2 linked regions of the Homo sapiens genome follow. The protein of the gene in region 1 interacts with the protein of each later gene in a biochemical or structural test. Each region holds a gene or a part of one and is shown in the gene's direction. Other genes may lie near its edges.

Region 1 (5,240 bases):
CAGTGAAATTGATTACCAGGTAGTGGGATGAACATCTGAAACTAGTTCTTAGTTTAAGTTGTCTGAGTTTTTGTGTATACTTTACCTATTCCCAGTTTAAATTGGCTTTCAAACAGTTTGTTTTCTGGGTACTCTTATAGGTGTTGGGGTATGAAATTAGTGGTAATTCTTTTTGCCTATTTTCTTTTTTTTTGTCTGAGATACCCTGAGTCTCGCTCTGTTGCCCAGACTGGAGTGCAGTGGCACAATTTCGGTTCACTGCAACCTCCGCCTCCTGGGTTCAAATGATTCTCCTGCCTCAGCCTCCTAAGTAGCTGGAATTACAGGCGTGTACCACCTTGCCTGGCTAATTTTGTTGTATTTTTTTTTTTTTGAGATGGAGTTTTGGTCTTGTTGCCCAGGCTGGAGTGCAATGGTGCAAACTCAGTTCACTGCAACCTCTGCTTCTGAGGTTCAAGTGATTCTCCTTCCTCAGCCTCCCCTGTAGCTGGGATTACAGGCATGCACCACCACACCCAGCTAATTTTGTATTTTTGGTAGAGACAGGGCTTTTCCATGTTGGTCAGGCTGGTCTCGAACTCCCAACCTCAGGTGATCTGCCCGCCTTGGCCTCCCAAAGTGCTGAGATTACAGGCGTGAGCTGCCGTGTCCGGCCTCTTTTTGCTAATTTTCTAAATTTATGTTTATAGTAGATTTTCATAAATTATCAAAAGTGAATTATTAGATGTGGAGTAAAAATTCAACTTTGAGTAGTTTTAGAAATTATTTATTGCTAAATTAGAAAATAAACTTTCAAAAGAGATCTCTTTTTTTTAAAAAAACTTAATTGAGACAGGGTCTCACTCTGTCACCCAGGCTGGAGTACAGTGGTGCAACCTTGGCTCACTGCAGCCCCTACCTCCTGGGTTCAAGCAATTCTTGTGCCTCAGCCTCCCAGGTAGCTGGGAATACAGGCATGTGCCACCACGCCCAGCTAAATTTTGTGTTTTTAGTAGAGACAGGGTTTCACCGTGTTGCCCGGGCTGGTCTCGAACTCCTGACTTCAAGTGATCCGCCCACCTTGGCCTCCCAAAGTGCTGGGATTACAGGCGTGAGTCACTATGCCTGGCCTAGAGATGGGATCTGCTTTTTTTTTTTTTTTTTTTTTGAGATGGAGTCTTGCTCTGTCACCCAGGCTGGAGTGCAATGGCACGATCTCAACTCACTGCAACCTCCGCTTCCCAGGTTCAGGCAATTCTCCTGTCTCAGCCTCCTAAGTAGCTGGGATTACAGGCACCTGCCATCATCCCTGACTAATTTTTGTATTTTTGTAGACGGGGTTTCACCATGTTGGCCAGGCTATTCTTGAACTCCTGACCTCAGGTGATCCGACCGCCTCGGCCTCCCAAAGTGCTGGGATTATAGGCATTAGCTACCGCGTCTGGCCTCTAGAGATGGGATCTTGCTTGCTCTGTTGCCAGGTTGGCCTTGAACTCAGGCTAGGGTTAAGTGATCTTTGTGCCTCGGCCTCTCCAGTAGCTGGGACTACAGGTGCGTGCCACCACTCGCAGCCTAAAATACTTTTTAAATCTCACCTACTTTCTAGCAGTATTTTATTTTATTTGGGCGCAGCTCTGCCATCAGTAGGCTGAGCTCCCTGCAGCCTCAAACTCCTGGGCTGAAGCAATGCCTCTGCCTCAGCCTCCTGAGTAGCTGGGACTACAGGTTTGTGCCACCACACCTGGCTATATTTTTATTTTTTTGTAGAGATGGGGTCTTGCTGTGTTGCCCAGGCTGGTCTGGAACTCCTGGCCTCAAGTTATTCTCCTGCATCAGCCTTCCAAATTGCTGGGATTACAGGCTTGAGCCACCATGCCCAGCTTTAGCAATTTTTTTTTTTTGAGACGGAGTCTCGCTCTATTGCCCAAGCTGGAGTGCAGTGGTGCGATCTCAGCTCACTGCAACCTCAGCTTCCTGGGTTCAAACAGTTCTCCTGCCTCAGCCTCCCAAATAGCTGGGATTACAGGCACGTGTCACCACACCTGGCTAATTTTTTGTATTTTTAGTAGAGATGGGGTTTCACCGTGTTAGCCAGGATGGTCTCGATCTCCTGACCTTGTGATCCAACCGCCTCAGCCTCCCTAAGTGCTGGGATTACAGGCATGTGCCACCGCACCTGGCCAGCAATATTTTAATATAGCACAGAAGTCCTTTCTAAATGTGTATAGTGAGAATCCATTGAGGATGAAATAGAAAATATTTACCAAAGTTTAACAACTTAGTCAATAAAAATAAAACTTTCTCTTTCCGTAATAAGTCAATCTCAGCATTCTAAAATAGGCAATGGAGGGGGGAAGAAATCTCTATGGGAAGGGTCCACTGGATCTTAACAGTTTCAACTAGTGTTCCACAATATTTCTGCTGTACTTGGGGAGAATTTCTGGATAATTAGAATAGTCTGAGGCTTATTCCTTTTAGTTTCCCATAGCCTGATTGAGATAGAGCTATAAGACCAGCTATAACATTGTACAGAAGACTCAGAGATAAACAAGTGAAAAAGATAACTGAGATTAATGTTGAACTAAGAATATGATTGTTCTCTGAGGCACTACCTGCTAGTTCCTGGATTACCTTTATATGTGGCCAAGGTGGGGATTGGGAAGCAAGGGAGCAAAAGCCCTAGAGCTAAGGGAGAGAGAATTTCTGCCTGCCTAAGATGAACCTTCTGAGTTGGATATTTTTTTTTCTTCCCCCTTGAGACGGAGTCTCACTCTGTCGCCAGACTGGAGTGCAGTGGCATGATCTCAGCTCACTGCAACCCCCGACTCCCTGGTTCAAATGATTTTCCTGCCTCAGCCTCCCGAGTAGCTGGGATTACAGGCACGTACCACCACACCCAGCTCATTTTTGTGTTTTTAGTAGGGATGGGGTTTCACCATGTTGGCCAGGACAGTCTCGATCTCCTCCTTGTGATTCGCCCGCCTTGGCCTCCCAAAGTGCTGGGATTACAGCTGTGAGCCACCGTGCCCGGCCTTGAGTTGGAATTTCTTTCTAAAGTCTTGCTCCTTTCTGTAGTTTGGCTTTCCTTTCAGGGTATCTGATTTTGCCTTCCTGCTCCTAGGCTTGTGACCTGACCTGATGCTGTCAATTACAGGAGAATGCAGAGGTGCAAGAAATTTTTTTTTTTTTGAGATGGAGTTTCGCTCTTGTTGCCCAGGTTGGGGTGCAATGGCACAATCTCGGCTCACAGCAACCTCCGCCTCCCGGGTTCAAGCTATTCTCCTGCCTCAGCCTCCCGAGTAGCTGGGATTACAGGCATGCGGCACCACACCCAGCTAATTTTGTATTTTTAGTAGAGACGGAGTTTTTCCATGTTGGTCAGGCTGGTCTTGAACTCCCGACCTTAGGTGATCCGCCCGCCTCTGCCTCCCAAAGTGCTGGGATTACAGGTGTGAGCCACCACGCCCGGCCAGAAGAAATTTTTTGTGTTTTGTTAATACAGTCAGCCACGAATAGCTAACAGCTAACAGCTGGTCCCTCATATTTGTGGGTTCCATATCTGCTAATTCAACCATTGATTGAAAATATTCAGAAAAAGAGACCACAATAAAAAATAACAATATAACAATAAAAGTGGGAATTAAAAACAATACGTATAACAACTACTTACATAACATTTACATTGCATTATTATATGTAATCTAGAGATGATTTGAAATATATGGGAGGATGTGTGTAGGTTATGTGCCGTTTAAGGCACTATAAGAGACTTTTGAGTATCTGTGGATTTTGGTATCCGATGGGAGGATCCTGGAACCAGTTCCCTGCAGCTATGGAGGTTTGACTATAATTATTTAGCATGTACTATTTGCTGTTCTAAATATACTGTTCTAAGCTCTTTATATATATTATTTCATTTAATCCTCCCAGTAATCCTGTGAGATAGATTCAGTATTATTATTATCCCCATTTCTCATTTAAGGAAAATTATTCCAGAGAGGTTAAGTAACTTGCTCAAAGTCATGCTAGCAGGTATCCTGAGATTAAATCCAGGCAGTCTGACTTGAGAGCCTTACTTACGTGCAGTATACTTCCTCTTTGAAGAGCAGGAAAACTGTGGGATATGGTGGCATGTTTCCTTAATATCTGTTAAGGCACACTTTGGTAAATGCTAAAATAGAAGCACAAAGTGCTATAGAATTTAAGGGAGGGGAAGTTCGTTTTTGTTTTTGTTTTTGTTTTTTCTTTTTTTTGAGATGGAGTCTTACTCTGTCACCCAGGCTGGAGTGCAGTAGCGCAATCTCAGCTCACTGCCACCTCCACCTCCCGGGTTCAAGTGATTCTCCTGCCTCAGCCTCCCGAGTAGCTGGGACTACAGGTGTGCACCACCACGCCCGGCTAAGTTTTGTATTTTTTAGTAGTGCTGGGATTACAGGTGTGAGCCACTGTGCCTGGCCGGGAAGTTCGTTTTAACTGAAGAGCTCTTTAGCAGCTTTGTAGAAGAAAGCTTCATATTAGATCTTGATGAATAGATAGATTTTGACAGATATCTCTCTGAGGTAGGCAGTCAAGCGGTGGCCAGAGTGGAAGAATTACTGTCCAGATTTACATATAGGTTTCCTGATTATTTAAATTACCGATGAAGTGCAGTAAGACTCTACTGTTGTCACAGTATCATTTCAGTTAGCTATTGGCGTTTAGAATCACAAAATACCAGCATCTTACAGTGATAGGTATTTATTCTCTTGAAATTGTGGGTTTGCTGGGTAGTGGATGATCTAAACTTGGCTTACTCAAAGTCAAAAGCCCAAAGTCAAGCAGGGCAGGGAGTAACTTGCACAATACTATAGTGACAGTAATCTACTGCAGTGATCTAGTACAGTTGATTTAGAGAAGAATGGTAAGATGCTTATTATGACAACTATTGTGCTTTCTTCTTTCTGCTCTCTATTGTTGACACTCTCCTGATAGCACTTTTTCATTTTGGTTGCTGAATAATACCTGTTGATTGGATACTCCTAGAATCATAATGTAATACAGCAGATTTCTTCTCTTCATGTTATGTAGAAAAAAAGCATAAAGAAATAATCAGAATCTTGACTATTCCACAGTGATGCCCTGAAAAGTTCAGCAATATCATGGTGCTATTCTTCTATCTTTGGGACTGATAAGCTTGATGTCACTGGAATGGCATTTGTAACAGAATTTGAACTGTAACAGAGTTTACATCAAGGTCATACATAATAACCCAACAACTCCTT
Region 2 (2,763 bases), on another chromosome or scaffold:
GAAGCAACGAAAACTCTGGGGTGAGGGATTGAAAAAATCTGAAATCACAGTTGGATTTTTAAATTCAACCATCAAAAATATGTACTATCAGTTTTTTTTTACATTGATGTGAAATAAGCAAATTTTCATGATAATTAAGCTGCAAAATTTAAAGTTATCAAGTAAATAGGTCCTCTGTGTTCTGTTTCATGTGATGGAGTGGGTTTCAGTCTGTGTTCTTGGAGCCAAAGGGTTCCTCAGGGGTGCCTCAGGAGTAATGGTTTAAGAGAAGAGGGGCAATGAGAGGGAGCGAGGGGGAAGGCCTAGTTGGTATTTGAGCAGGGGCCTTAGGCTCCATATCCCCACCCCCTTTACCCAGAACAGCCCATTTTTCTTATGTATATTGGAATTTCAAGTAAGCTTTCATGGGGTGCAGTGGGGCGGGGAGGAATGGATGGGATAAAAAAAGTGGAGATTTTGCTGCTTTAAAAAAGTTGAGAACTACTTGTGTAGTTTTTAAGTATTTTAATGTATTTCATTTGGCCAAATTCAACTGCCACAAGCAAGCTAGTCATAGTTGTAACTGTGCAGTGGTAATATGCTTATGCCTACCTTTTTCCTCTCAAACAATTTGTTTTTTTTACATTGCATTCTGAGTACTGAAGAGCATCTTGAAATGTATGGAAGTGGTTTCTATGCTATTTGATAATCAGTAATGTTCAGCTGTCATGATAGTACTTTACTGGTTGCAGACCCATCTCTCTTTTATATTAAAGCACTAGTGCAGTTTATAATTGTGCCTACTTTTAAAATCTTTCAGTAAAAAAGTACATAATGAATACAGAAATCATAACTGACAGGGATACAGTAATAATGAAATGCTACTATCACTTATTTTAATATACAATATAAAGCAGGCAAATACCATTGCTTTTTGAGTGCCTTTTTAACTTTATACTAATGACTTAATAGAGCTTTAAAAGAAAGAAATTGGCTGGGCATGGTGGCTCACACCTGTAATCCCAGCACTTTGGGAGGCCGAGGTGGGCGGATCACCTGAGGTCAGGAGTTCGAGACCAGCCTGGCCAACGTGGTGAAACCCTGTCTCTACTAAAAATACAAAATTTAGCCGGGCATGGTGGCGCACTCCTGTAATCCAACTACTTGGGAGGCTGAGGCAGGAGAATTGCTTGAATCTGGGAGGCAGAGATTGCAGTGAGCCGAGATCGCACCACTGCACTCCAGCCTGGGCGACAAGAGTGAGACTCCGTCCCCGCCCAAAAAAAAAAAAAAAAGAAATTACTCTCCATAACAGTCTATGTTATCACCAACATATATAAAAACATGATTTAGATTTCCATTTCAAAGTTACATTACCCGATTACTTCCAAATAGGTGCTAAGCAAAAACCCCCAATGTATTATTGAACCATGGACTTGCACCTCATGTTTAATGTGAATATTTATTTCCATGTCCCTCTTAACTGGTTTTTTCTTGTCTTCCCTCTAGCTGTATTGTTATTTCAGATATGTGATATCTGTTTTCATACTCTTGCCTTTCCATCATGAATGCTTAGTTATGAACAGAGATTCCTTTGTAGAGCTCATAGGCAGTACAGAGAGGTAAGTCTTGCCTCAGAGGGCCTTGTATCTTGGTGTAGTTTTTAAATAGTGCATAGTGTATAGTGTATAGTGTACATTTTGTTTTGCACATAGTTTGTTGCCCCGAATGGGTTTTTTACCAAGCCTTTTTTTCTTTCATGTATTTACAGTCCGGAGCACAAGATTCTCTTCTTTCAAATACAATGTAATTCGCTTTACTTTACAACACTAAATCTGGGCTTTGAATTTCCAGTGCATTGGACTGATTGGATTGTTGGGAGTTAGAGGCTGTTCCAACCATCCTTAGTTTGGGAGAGTGGCTCCTTCTGCTTGTTTTCTAAGCGTACAGTCAACGGGTGCCATTTGTGGTATTTAACATGTTAGGATGATTGTTCCAAATGCTGAGTTGTTTTATTTCTAGATGTAATTAGTTCACTTTATGTAATATTCTTCTCTCAGACTGACTTTAAAAACAAAGTTTTATCATTTTCATTGTATTTGTATTTATTACAGAGTGTTTTAGCTTTGATATTCTTTGTATTTTCATTCATTTGTTACATGAGCTTTATCAGTAACATCTGTATAAATGGTTTTTAAAAATTAACTATGTATGTGCCCATGCCGAAGTCGAGCAATAAAATCAATGCTGTTTGCACTGTCACAGCATCAACGTTTTTAAAGAATATTGAGTTTGTAATGAATCGTTTTGAAAACATTTATGGTTGGCTCTATGGAGGGTGACAACATGAGTCACAAAATGAAAAGTTCAAGAACACATGCCATCCTGAGTTGATGCCTCTGTCATGTTGCAGAGCTCAGCTTTCTGTCTCCTCGCAGAGCAGGGAAGGTGCCCGTTTTCTCCGGCCGTGGTGACTGCTCAGTTGGTAGTACCTGTTGGGGGTACCGCATAGGTGGATTTCTGAGGGGGGTCAGGGGCTAGTGGGGAAGAGCATCTTGGTCCTGTCACCAGTCTGCAACCATCTTTGCTATAATACATCTCCGCTCTGTAGGGCAGGCCTATGACAGGGGCTCATATTTGCCAGCCCTACCTTGGTATGTCGAGCAGTAAAATTCTCAAAATGAAAAGGAGAAATCAATTGTATTTTTTCTAGAAGCTGTGGATTTTAAGGTTTATAATTCACTACTGTATTAATGATAGTGGACTAAAGTCCAGCTAACTCTA

Evidence for each region.
Region 2: of the proteins of BTRC (region 1) and SMURF2, one has a biochemical effect on the other in vitro, tested with the Homo sapiens proteins (one study listed by BioGRID).

What each region holds. Positions count from the first base shown.
Region 1 is NC_000010.11:101,359,245-101,364,484, forward strand, and holds part of BTRC (F-box/WD repeat-containing protein 1A), read left to right. Parts: intron 1-5,240. UniProt on the Homo sapiens protein: Substrate recognition component of a SCF (SKP1-CUL1-F-box protein) E3 ubiquitin-protein ligase complex which mediates the ubiquitination and subsequent proteasomal degradation of target proteins. Recognizes and binds to phosphorylated target proteins.
Region 2 is NC_000017.11:64,541,782-64,544,544, reverse strand, and holds the end of SMURF2 (E3 ubiquitin-protein ligase SMURF2), read left to right. Parts: 3' UTR 1-2,263; downstream 2,264-2,763. UniProt on the Homo sapiens protein: E3 ubiquitin-protein ligase which accepts ubiquitin from an E2 ubiquitin-conjugating enzyme in the form of a thioester and then directly transfers the ubiquitin to targeted substrates.